Linked DNA regions of Homo sapiens. The protein of the gene in region 2 interacts with the protein of the main gene of each other region in a biochemical or structural test. Each region holds a gene or a part of one and is shown on either strand. Other genes may lie near its edges.

What was found. Proteins that work in one complex are often made in the same cells at the same time.
Region 1: the proteins of CA9 (region 2) and CAND1 interact in a test that uses a peptide from one of them, tested with the Homo sapiens proteins (one study listed by BioGRID).

Annotation. Positions count from the first base shown.
Region 1 is NC_000012.12:67,272,335-67,279,367, forward strand, and holds part of CAND1 (cullin-associated NEDD8-dissociated protein 1), read left to right. Parts: intron 1-1,165; exon of another isoform or gene 1,166-1,292; intron 1,293-7,033. UniProt on the Homo sapiens protein: Key assembly factor of SCF (SKP1-CUL1-F-box protein) E3 ubiquitin ligase complexes that promotes the exchange of the substrate-recognition F-box subunit in SCF complexes, thereby playing a key role in the cellular repertoire of SCF complexes.
Region 2 is NC_000009.12:35,676,907-35,681,671, forward strand, and holds the end of CA9 (carbonic anhydrase 9 precursor), read left to right. Parts: intron 1-770; coding exon of another isoform or gene 771-785; exon of another isoform or gene 786-883; coding exon 884-950; intron 951-2,278; coding exon 2,279-2,436; intron 2,437-2,947; coding exon 2,948-3,092; intron 3,093-3,206; coding exon 3,207-3,233; intron 3,234-3,846; coding exon 3,847-3,928; intron 3,929-4,058; coding exon 4,059-4,119; 3' UTR 4,120-4,253; downstream 4,254-4,765. UniProt on the Homo sapiens protein: Catalyzes the interconversion between carbon dioxide and water and the dissociated ions of carbonic acid (i.e. bicarbonate and hydrogen ions).

The DNA of each region.
Region 1 (7,033 bases), on a different chromosome or scaffold from region 2:
TTAATTTGAGATTACATTTTCACTTCTGAGAGGCATGGACATGACTAATTACAAAAGGTTGTTATAGGCATAAAATTTCAGGTCTATTTATATAATTACATAGTTCATTAATACAGAGAAGGTAAAGAAATGAATGCAGGCTTAAAAATTTGGAAATTTCTGCATTTTAAAAGAATCTTTTTGTAGGACTATTAAGGCTCAATTTATTGAAAAATTGTAATATTTCTTTTGTGTTTTAGTATTGTGCATTATTTAAAAATGAGATATTAAGACTTAGGAGAAATGGGGAAGCATTAGGATGAGAAATGCTGAGATTAGGAACTCTGCCATATGCAGGGTTTTTGTTGTTGTTGTTGTTTTGGTTTTTTTTGTTTGTTTTTTTGAGATGGAGTCTTTTCTGTCGCCAGGCTGTAGTGCAGGGGCGCCATCTCAGCTCACTTCAACCTCCGCCTCCCAGGTTCAAGCAACTCCCTTGCCTCAGCCTCCCAAGTAGCTGGGATTACAGGCACACACCACCACGCCTGGCTAATTTTTTGTATTTTAGTCAAGACGGGGTTTCACCATGTTCGCCAGCATGGTCTCGATCTTCTAACCTCGTGATCCACCCGCCTGGGCCTCCCAGAGTGCTGGGATTACAGGCCAGCACCGCATCCACCCATGCAGGGTTTTTTGTTTGTTTGTTTTAAAAAAAGGAGACTAGGAGCTCTTTTATTAAAAAAAGGAGGAGGCATTTGTGTGTCTTAATTACTAGGATAGTGCCTGTTACTTACTAGCCTCGGTTTAGTGAAAAGTTATTAATGAATGCCAATTCAAATAAAACCTTCAGAAGAAAAATGAAGAAACATTCCTTGGGACAGTACCTTAGAACAGTGCTTCTCATCACTTCCTCCCTAAAAGAAACACTTCTGGAGTGTACTGAGACTTTTTGCCAGAAAACATTTGTACCAGTGTATATAGTTATTTTAAGGACCTCTAGGGATGCATGTTCCATAAAGGAATAAAGAGTAAACCTTATAATGTAGCCAATAGATAGGGGATTCGGTTGATACCAGAGTGAAAGCTTTAATGTGGATGAACCATGTGACACTCCATTTGTGAATATTAATATTGAATATTTGGTAGGTTGAGGTAACTAAGTTCTTTTCTTTTTTTTTTTTTTTTTTAGAGATAGGGTCTCGCTCTGTCACCCACGCTGGAGTGCAGTGGCACCACCTCAACTCACTGCAGCTTCAACCTCCTGGGCTCAAGCGATTTTCTTCCCACCTCAGCCCCCAGAGTAGCTGGGACTACAGGTGCGCACCACCACACTCAGCTAATTTTTTTTATAGAGATGGGTATCACCATGTTTCCCAGGCTGGTCTCAAACTCTTGATTTCCGGCAATCTGCCCACCTTGGCCTCCCAAAGTGCTGGGATTACAGGCTTGAGCCACTGTGCCCAGCCACTTCTTTTATTTTCATATTCTTCAACCACCAGTTGATTTAAAATATTCCAAGGAATCAAGAGCTAAAGAAAATATCATTATCTTTCTATATATAATAGTTAATATTAATGCTTACTGTGAGCTTGATTTTTGTTTATCCTTACAACTTTAGTAAAAGAGGATAATAATAATCTCGTTTACAGTTGAAGAAACTGAGATTTGGAGAGATTAAGTACTTGTTTAAGGTCAGTTAGATAGTAGGTCTGGGACTTATAGGATCTCTTTACCCCCAGAACATGAACTCTTGACCACCCAGCTATGTCACTTCTCCAGGGTTTAGACTAGTGGATGTTAAGATTCAGGCCTTAAATTTCATTTCCCTCTAAAATTAGGCTTATAGAATATTTCATGCTAGAAGATGCTTTTAATAATTCCTGAGGACTACAAAAAGTTTAAGATCTGGTGCTTACTTTCCCTAAATCTACATGCTTGTTGAATAGTTAAGACACTATTGTAAAAAGATGAATAACCCAGGGCAATATGTAATTGTCAGGCATTAAGTGGCAGAGAATATTAAAGCAAGAAGATTCATGTCCATGGAGAGATTTGAGCCAGGTGTTGAAAATGAAACTCTAGATAGAAAGTGAAAATGTAAAGCACACGATACAAAACTTCACTGGGGAAGAGGGAATAGATAACCTGACTGTAGCTGGATGGATATTGTCCACAGAACTCCTTAAGAATAGGGACCTTGTCTTACTAAACGGAATCGTTCTCTTTGTCTGGCTCTGGGCCATGTGGGTTCTCAGTAGGTGCTTGTTTAAGTAGAATTGGGTTTTATTTCCATTATATAGGGATTTTAGGAACCTCCAGAAAACCATTGTAAAATCAACTAAACTGTTTGTTTAAATACCACTTGATAGAATCTTCTTAAAATAATTCACCCCATTTTGGAATGCAAGTTTTTCCCAATTTGATAAAGGTTTATATTACCAGATTTATTTATTTAAGTGTTTTGGATATTGGACGGTATTTTCTTTTGGAAACTGTTTAAAATGCTTGTAAAAAAAACTCAAGCCTTTTAAGGAATCAGGTTTTCAGAGCTGGAAGGAACCTTAGAGATCCTATCATATAGCTGAAAGTACAGTGTGGGTGGGCATTTACAATAACATAACAGGAAATAGTGAAATTATCTTAAGTACTTGTGCTTGGAGAAAAGCAGGTTTAATCAGAAGAAATAGATTTGCAGAGATTAAGAAGGTGATTTCTGGGCACTTTTAAAAATACTTAGAAGGTTGATGGCAGTAACTTTCTTGATTTTACTTTGATGTTTTTTTCTTGATATATACTATGCTAACTGGTTATCAGCAGTGATTAGGGCTCACCACTGAGAAAGAGGAGGAAGGGACCTCACAGAGAAAACTGGGAAGAAAGATTAGTAAAAATTAGATTTCTTTACATGAACAATATTAAGACTATTCCAATTTAGGTCTTGTGTGGTGGCTCACGACTGTAATTCCAGCACTTTGGGAGGCCAAGGCAGGCAGATCATCTGAGGTCAGGAGTTCATGACCAGCCTGGACAACATGGTGAAACCCCATCTCTACTAAAAATACAAAAATTAGCCGGGCATGGTGGTGCATACCTGTAATCCCAGCTACTCGCGAGGCTGAGGCAGCAGAATTGCTTGAACCTGCGAGGCAGAGGTTGCGTGAGCAGAGATTGCACCACTGCACTGTGGCCTGGGTGACAGAGGGAGACTGTCTCAAAAAGAAAAAAAAAAAAACTGTTCCAACTTAATTCATAGCACTCTAAGGAATAACTGAGGAAAAGTGAAATAGCAGTGGTGTATGTGCAGGATCTCTGAAAGGTAATTGGTGTACTGAGTGATAAAATTGACCATATCAACTAGATTTCTGGTTGGAAGCAAGAGTAAAATTGTGTTTATGTATGATGGGAGAGGCTGTGGTGAGAGTTATTGTGAGTGCAAGGTATCTATCGATCTAGTGCATACCTAGTGTAAGTTCCAGACTGTGTTACTCATCACTGTGTTTGCAGAGTAGAGTTCCTTATGTTGGTGCCCTCAAAATACTTGTTGAATAAAGGAATGAGATGGCACTGCCTACAGGTCATATCAACCTGGGAATTCCATTGAAGTCTGAAACGTAAACATTTATCTTTTTCTTTTCCCGTCTTAATGCCTTCTTTATCCTTATTTTGGCCTGTTAAATTACCATCCACTGAAAGTCACAAGCAGAAAATCTTTGATATCACCCTTCTCCCGTCTGTCTTCTTTAGTCTCCTGATGAGTATTTCTCAAATTAATCTTGCTGTCTCAGGCCTCTTCCTAACCCAGTTTGTTCCCTCTGGCCATTAGAATTTTCTTCCTATATACTGCAGCTGATCATTGCCTCCCTCACTAATTTCCATTGACTACAAGATAAACTCCAGATTTCTTAGCTGTTGCCCATCTGAATTCGTAGAGACTGCTCTCCTAAAATCCCCAACAGTCTCCCTAGTCTCCTAATATAACTCATTTAGTGGATATTTTCTTTGCTCATCTATTTGGTATATTTTTTTAAATCACTTTTTCCTTCTTGGAATTCTCTTATATGGGCATCCTGACACGAGTTGGGTTTTTGTCCGTAATAGTCAGGGAAAACACACACTTTAGGGTATCAGAGGATGTTAGAAGGAACCTATTCATTTGGGTAATTTGGGAAAGAGTCTAAGGAAGTGAAGCCTTGCTTTAGGTTGAGTGTTGTCAGAAAGTGAGGTCAATTCTATGATTCGGCCTCTTAATAAATTTTACAGGGAGGGCTGACCTAAGCAGGGGGAAAGCTGTAGTTGGTAAAGAAGTATCAGTCACTCATTTAACTGGAGAGGGGAATGTTTGGTATTTTGTATTGCTCAGGGACCTTGTCCGAAATGGATGTTCTGTGAGATTGTTTATGTCCAAGAAAACAATATGCCTTAGCTGTTAAGCATCAGATCGGTTAGTAATAACACTGAGGTTTAGTTATGAGTCTCAGATAAGTTTCTGGAATGTGGAGGCTGCTGTTTTTTTCTTTATCAGTGCCCACTTTTGGCCAAGGGTAGACAAAGTTGGGCTGCAGGACATTAATTTTTGATTTTCACATCTTCACTATGGCGGAGATTTTGTTAAGATCAGAGGAATATCCATTCCATGTAGTTTGCAGTTTAACCAAAGTTAATCCTTTCTTCTGTTGTAAGATGAGCAGTTTATTCATCTGATGTGACAATGGCTGCAGGGTAACATTAAGACTCTGGACAAGGATATGTTAGCTGACTGTATTACCCAGTCTTGTGGTTTTCCTTTTACTTCTTTCCTGCTAGCTCATCCTTACCATCCCTATATCTAATCCATTTTGAAGAACTATTAATTTTAGTTTGTAAAATTCAAACCAACTAGTTCTCATTATTTGTAGTATGTTTTGTAACATTATCACAAACACTGAGTTAGCAAGTACTGAACCATTGCTTCTGAGGGAATTATGGAATTAGTTTCTCTGAGTCCTGAGTCACATTATTTTAATCAGTTGATGAGTTTGTAACCTCGTTTTATGAGTGTTTCTTTTAAAGTTGTCTTAATATATATTGCTGATTTATTAACATTGAATTCACAGCCAATAAAGAAGCTTATCTAACACATATGTTTTTTTCAGAAGGCACATTATAGCCTTCTTGCACTTAGGAATGCTAGACAGCATTTCAGCACTGTGCTTGGAGGCCATATTAAACAACAAGAGCGCCAAGAAAAAGCACAAACATGTGAAAAACATGGGCTGAAATAGGCCAAGAAGAAGATGCTTGTTTACAACATGAGAGCTGGAGCTAGAAGGCAGAGTGTTGCTTTGTGCCACCACAGCTGGGAATGTATGTGTTGGATTACTCAAAATTTTCACCACTCGACACTCATCCAAATGACTGTGAAATAGGAAGCATTAATTTTGCTTTACAAATAAATGTTAATGAGTAGGTGAATTTGCAAATATGGAACCTGGGAATAATGAGAATCAACTGTATGTCATTTTTTTTTCCATCTTCATTGATTGCCATAACCTAAGTCAGGCCATCATAATTTCTAACTTAGTCATTCTCCTAACTAGTCTCCATTCAGTATGGCCAAATGAAGATTTGTTCTCTCCAAAGTATGGTCCACAGTATAGCTGGAGTAATGTTTCTGAAATGTAAATCTGATCATTGCATTTATTCCCCATCTGTAACCCAGTTGTTTTTCAGTAGCTTCCCACTCTCTTAGAATAAAGGCTAAAATCCTGATATGGTCTACAAATCCTTTAAATTCCTGGCCCTTGCTTACCTGGCACTAACTTCCTCCTGCTTCACCGTAATTTTGCCTACTCTTTATTTATTTTTGAGACAGAGTGTCACTCTTTTGCTCAGGCTGGGGTGCAGTGACGTGATCTTGACTCACTGCAACCTCCACTGCCCGGCTTCAAGCGACTGCCGCCCAGGTTCAAGCATTTCCCCTGCCTCAGCCTCCCAAATAGGTGGGATTACAGGCATGTACTACCATGCCTGGCTAATTTTGTATTTTTGGTAGAGACGGGGTTTCACCATGTTGTCCAGGCTGGTTTGGAACTCCTGACCTCCACCTGCCTAGGTCTCCCAAAGTGCTGGGATTACAGGTGTGAGCCACCATGCCCAGCTCCTACTCTTCAGATCAGTCTTTCCTGACACAACCCGCAGTTCAGTCTAGGTCATGTTACTTTGTTTATATGATAGTGCTTTCTTGTTTTGGGATGAATCTCACTCTGTCACCTAGGCTGTAGTGCAGTGGCTCAATCTCGGCTCACTGCAACCTCTGTGTCCCAGGTTCAAGCGATTCTCCTGCCTTAGCCTCCCAAGTAGGTGAGATTACAGGTGTACACCACCACACCCAGCTAATTTTTGTAATTTTAGTAGAGACAGGGTTTCACCATGTTGGCCAGGCTGGTGTCGAACTCCTGACCTCAGGAGATCTGCCTGCCTTGGCCTCCCAAAGTGCTGGGATTACAGGCGTGAGCCACTGGCACCTGGCCCCATAGTGTTTTCTTGATAACACTTTCCTTCATAGCATTTATCTTAGTTCTTAGTTCTACAGGTGCTTACTCATACATGCAATTTAAAAAGTTAATATGCCTTTTACTAGACTGCAATGTAAGCTCCAAGACAGCAAGAATTGTGTGTGCTTTGGTTAGCCCTTATATCAGCAAAAACTAGTACAGTACCTGATATGTAGTAGGTTCTTATTACACAGTGTATGAGTATATAACGCCATTCCCATTTTGACCTCAGCCTATATTCCCATCATCTTCCTATTAGGTTTCTGTGCTCCACATACTGAACTGTTTCCTTAGTCCTTCACTCTGAGGTGCTCTGTCCTTCCCCACCACCAAAAAAAAAAAAAAAAGTAATTTAAATTCCAAACCAATTTTTCCCATGCAAACCCCTGTTCATCCTTTGAGATCCAACCTAACAGTCAACTCTTGGGTGTGATAATTTCCATATGCTCTTGAGTAGTGTTTTATAAAATGTATTGAGATCTGTGCCCTTAGCACCATACCTAAAAGAGTAAATGCTGAAGAGA
Region 2 (4,765 bases):
CAGTGGTGTGATCTTGGGTCACTGCAACTTCCGCCTCCCGGGTTCAAGGGATTCTCCTGCCTCAGCTTCCTGAGTAGCTGGGGTTACAGGTGTGTGCCACCATGCCCAGCTAATTTTTTTTTGTATTTTTAGTAGACAGGGTTTCACCATGTTGGTCAGGCTGGTCTCAAACTCCTGGCCTCAAGTGATCCGCCTGACTCAGCCTACCAAAGTGCTGATTACAAGTGTGAGCCACCGTGCCCAGCCACACTCACTGATTCTTTAATGCCAGCCACACAGCACAAAGTTCAGAGAAATGCCTCCATCATAGCATGTCAATATGTTCATACTCTTAGGTTCATAATGTTCTTAACATTAGGTTCATAAGCAAAATAAGAAAAAAGAATAATAAATAAAAGAAGTGGCATGTCAGGACCTCACCTGAAAAGCCAAACACAGAATCATGAAGGTGAATGCAGAGGTGACACCAACACAAAGGTGTATATATGGTTTCCTGTGGGGAGTATGTACGGAGGCAGCAGTGAGTGAGACTGCAAACGTCAGAAGGGCACGGGTCACTGAGAGCCTAGTATCCTAAGTAAAGTGGGCTCTCTCCCTCTCTCTCCAGCTTGTCATTGAAAACCAGTCCACCAAGCTTGTTGGTTCGCACAGCAAGAGTACATAGAGTTTGAAATAATACATAGGATTTTAAGAGGGAGACACTGTCTCTAAAAAAAAAAACAACAGCAACAACAAAAAGCAACAACCATTACAATTTTATGTTCCCTCAGCATTCTCAGAGCTGAGGAATGGGAGAGGTCTATGGGAACCCCCCTTCATGTTCCGGCCTTCAGCCATGGCCCTGGATACATGCACTCATCTGTCTTACAATGTCATCCCCCAGGAGGGCCCGGAAGAAAACAGTGCCTATGAGCAGTTGCTGTCTCGCTTGGAAGAAATCGCTGAGGAAGGTCAGTTTGTTGGTCTGGCCACTAATCTCTGTGGCCTAGTTCATAAAGAATCACCCTTTGGAGCTTCAGGTCTGAGGCTGGAGATGGGCTCCCTCCAGTGCAGGAGGGATTGAAGCATGAGCCAGCGCTCATCTTGATAATAACCATGAAGCTGACAGACACAGTTACCCGCAAACGGCTGCCTACAGATTGAAAACCAAGCAAAAACCGCCGGGCACGGTGGCTCACGCCTGTAATCCCAGCACTTTGGGAGGCCAAGGCAGGTGGATCACGAGGTCAAGAGATCAAGACCATCCTGGCCAACATGGTGAAACCCCATCTCTACTAAAAATACGAAAAAATAGCCAGGCGTGGTGGCGGGTGCCTGTAATCCCAGCTACTCGGGAGGCTGAGGCAGGAGAATGGCATGAACCCGGGAGGCAGAAGTTGCAGTGAGCCGAGATCGTGCCACTGCACTCCAGCCTGGGCAACAGAGCGAGACTCTTGTCTCAAAAAAAAAAAAAAAAAAGAAAACCAAGCAAAAACCAAAATGAGACAAAAAAAACAAGACCAAAAAATGGTGTTTGGAATTGTCAAGGTCAAGTCTGGAGAGCTAAACTTTTTCTGAGAACTGTTTATCTTTAATAAGCATCAAATATTTTAACTTTGTAAATACTTTTGTTGGAAATCGTTCTCTTCTTAGTCACTCTTGGGTCATTTTAAATCTCACTTACTCTACTAGACCTTTTAGGTTTCTGCTAGACTAGGTAGAACTCTGCCTTTGCATTTCTTGTGTCTGTTTTGTATAGTTATCAATATTCATATTTATTTACAAGTTATTCAGATCATTTTTTCTTTTCTTTTCTTTTTTTTTTTTTTTACATCTTTAGTAGAGACAGGGTTTCACCATATTGGCCAGGCTGCTCTCAAACTCCTGACCTTGTGATCCACCAGCCTCGGCCTCCCAAAGTGCTGGGATTCATTTTTTCTTTTTAATTTGCTCTGGGCTTAAACTTGTGGCCCAGCACTTTATGATGGTACACAGAGTTAAGAGTGTAGACTCAGACGGTCTTTCTTCTTTCCTTCTCTTCCTTCCTCCCTTCCCTCCCACCTTCCCTTCTCTCCTTCCTTTCTTTCTTCCTCTCTTGCTTCCTCAGGCCTCTTCCAGTTGCTCCAAAGCCCTGTACTTTTTTTTGAGTTACGTCTTATGGGAAGGGCCTGCACTTAGCGAAGAAGTGGTCTCAGAGTTGAGTTACCTTGGCTTCTGGGAGGTGAAACTGTATCCCTATACCCTGAAGCTTTAAGGGGGTGCAATGTAGATGAGACCCCAACATAGATCCTCTTCACAGGCTCAGAGACTCAGGTCCCAGGACTGGACATATCTGCACTCCTGCCCTCTGACTTCAGCCGCTACTTCCAATATGAGGGGTCTCTGACTACACCGCCCTGTGCCCAGGGTGTCATCTGGACTGTGTTTAACCAGACAGTGATGCTGAGTGCTAAGCAGGTGGGCCTGGGGTGTGTGTGGACACAGTGGGTGCGGGGGAAAGAGGATGTAAGATGAGATGAGAAACAGGAGAAGAAAGAAATCAAGGCTGGGCTCTGTGGCTTACGCCTATAATCCCACCACGTTGGGAGGCTGAGGTGGGAGAATGGTTTGAGCCCAGGAGTTCAAGACAAGGCGGGGCAACATAGTGTGACCCCATCTCTACCAAAAAAACCCCAACAAAACCAAAAATAGCCGGGCATGGTGGTATGCGCCTAGTCCCAGCTACTCAAGGAGGCTGAGGTGGGAAGATCGCTTGATTCCAGGAGTTTGAGACTGCAGTGAGCTATGATCCCACCACTGCCTACCATCTTTAGGATACATTTATTTATTTATAAAAGAAATCAAGAGGCTGGATGGGGAATACAGGAGCTGGAGGGTGGAGCCCTGAGGTGCTGGTTGTGAGCTGGCCTGGGACCCTTGTTTCCTGTCATGCCATGAACCCACCCACACTGTCCACTGACCTCCCTAGCTCCACACCCTCTCTGACACCCTGTGGGGACCTGGTGACTCTCGGCTACAGCTGAACTTCCGAGCGACGCAGCCTTTGAATGGGCGAGTGATTGAGGCCTCCTTCCCTGCTGGAGTGGACAGCAGTCCTCGGGCTGCTGAGCCAGGTACAGCTTTGTCTGGTTTCCCCCCAGCCAGTAGTCCCTTATCCTCCCATGTGTGTGCCAGTGTCTGTCATTGGTGGTCACAGCCCGCCTCTCACATCTCCTTTTTCTCTCCAGTCCAGCTGAATTCCTGCCTGGCTGCTGGTGAGTCTGCCCCTCCTCTTGGTCCTGATGCCAGGAGACTCCTCAGCACCATTCAGCCCCAGGGCTGCTCAGGACCGCCTCTGCTCCCTCTCCTTTTCTGCAGAACAGACCCCAACCCCAATATTAGAGAGGCAGATCATGGTGGGGATTCCCCCATTGTCCCCAGAGGCTAATTGATTAGAATGAAGCTTGAGAAATCTCCCAGCATCCCTCTCGCAAAACAATCCCCCCCCTTTTTTTAAAGATAGGGTCTCACTCTGTTGCCCAGGCTGGGGTGTTGTGGCACGATCATAGCTCACTGCAGCCTCGAACTCCTAGGCTCAGGCAATCCTTTCACCTTAGCTTCTCAAAGCACTGGGACTGTAGGCATGAGCCACTGTGCCTGGCCCCAAACGGCCCTTTTACTTGGCTTTTAGGAAGCAAAAACGGTGCTTATCTTACCCCTTCTCGTGTATCCACCCTCATCCCTTGGCTGGCCTCTTCTGGAGACTGAGGCACTAGGGGCTGCCTGAGAACTCGGGGCAGGGGTGGTGGAGTGCACTGAGGCAGGTGTTGAGGAACTCTGCAGACCCCTCTTCCTTCCCAAAGCAGCCCTCTCTGCTCTCCATCGCAGGTGACATCCTAGCCCTGGTTTTTGGCCTCCTTTTTGCTGTCACCAGCGTCGCGTTCCTTGTGCAGATGAGAAGGCAGCACAGGTATTACACTGACCCTTTCTTCAGGCACAAGCTTCCCCCACCCTTGTGGAGTCACTTCATGCAAAGCGCATGCAAATGAGCTGCTCCTGGGCCAGTTTTCTGATTAGCCTTTCCTGTTGTGTACACACAGAAGGGGAACCAAAGGGGGTGTGAGCTACCGCCCAGCAGAGGTAGCCGAGACTGGAGCCTAGAGGCTGGATCTTGGAGAATGTGAGAAGCCAGCCAGAGGCATCTGAGGGGGAGCCGGTAACTGTCCTGTCCTGCTCATTATGCCACTTCCTTTTAACTGCCAAGAAATTTTTTAAAATAAATATTTATAATAAAATATGTGTTAGTCACCTTTGTTCCCCAAATCAGAAGGATGGTATTTGAATTTCCTATTACTGTTATTAGCACGAATTTAGTGGTAATGCATTTATTCTATTACAGTTCGGAGGTCAGCAGTCAGATGTCAGTAGGGCTTGTTCCTCCTTCCACACATCACTCCAATCTCTTGCTCCCATTGTCACAACTCCTACCTCCACATTTGACCTCCTTGTCTCCTCAAGAACCCTTGGGATTACACTGGGCCTAACTAGATAACCAAGGATAATCATCCCATCTCAAAATCTTAATCACCAAGTTTCTTCCCATGTAAGATAAGAACAATGCACAGGATTAGAACATGGACATCTTTGGAGAAGGGGAATTATTCTGCCTACCACAGATGCTATCAGGAAGAGGACAGAAATGACTGATACTGTTGGGATGGCTGTGTGTGTGTGTGTGTTTGTGTGTGTGTGCAGTGTATGTGTTGAGGGGTAGGGCAGACAGCAGCCCTAGGCTTAACATCACACT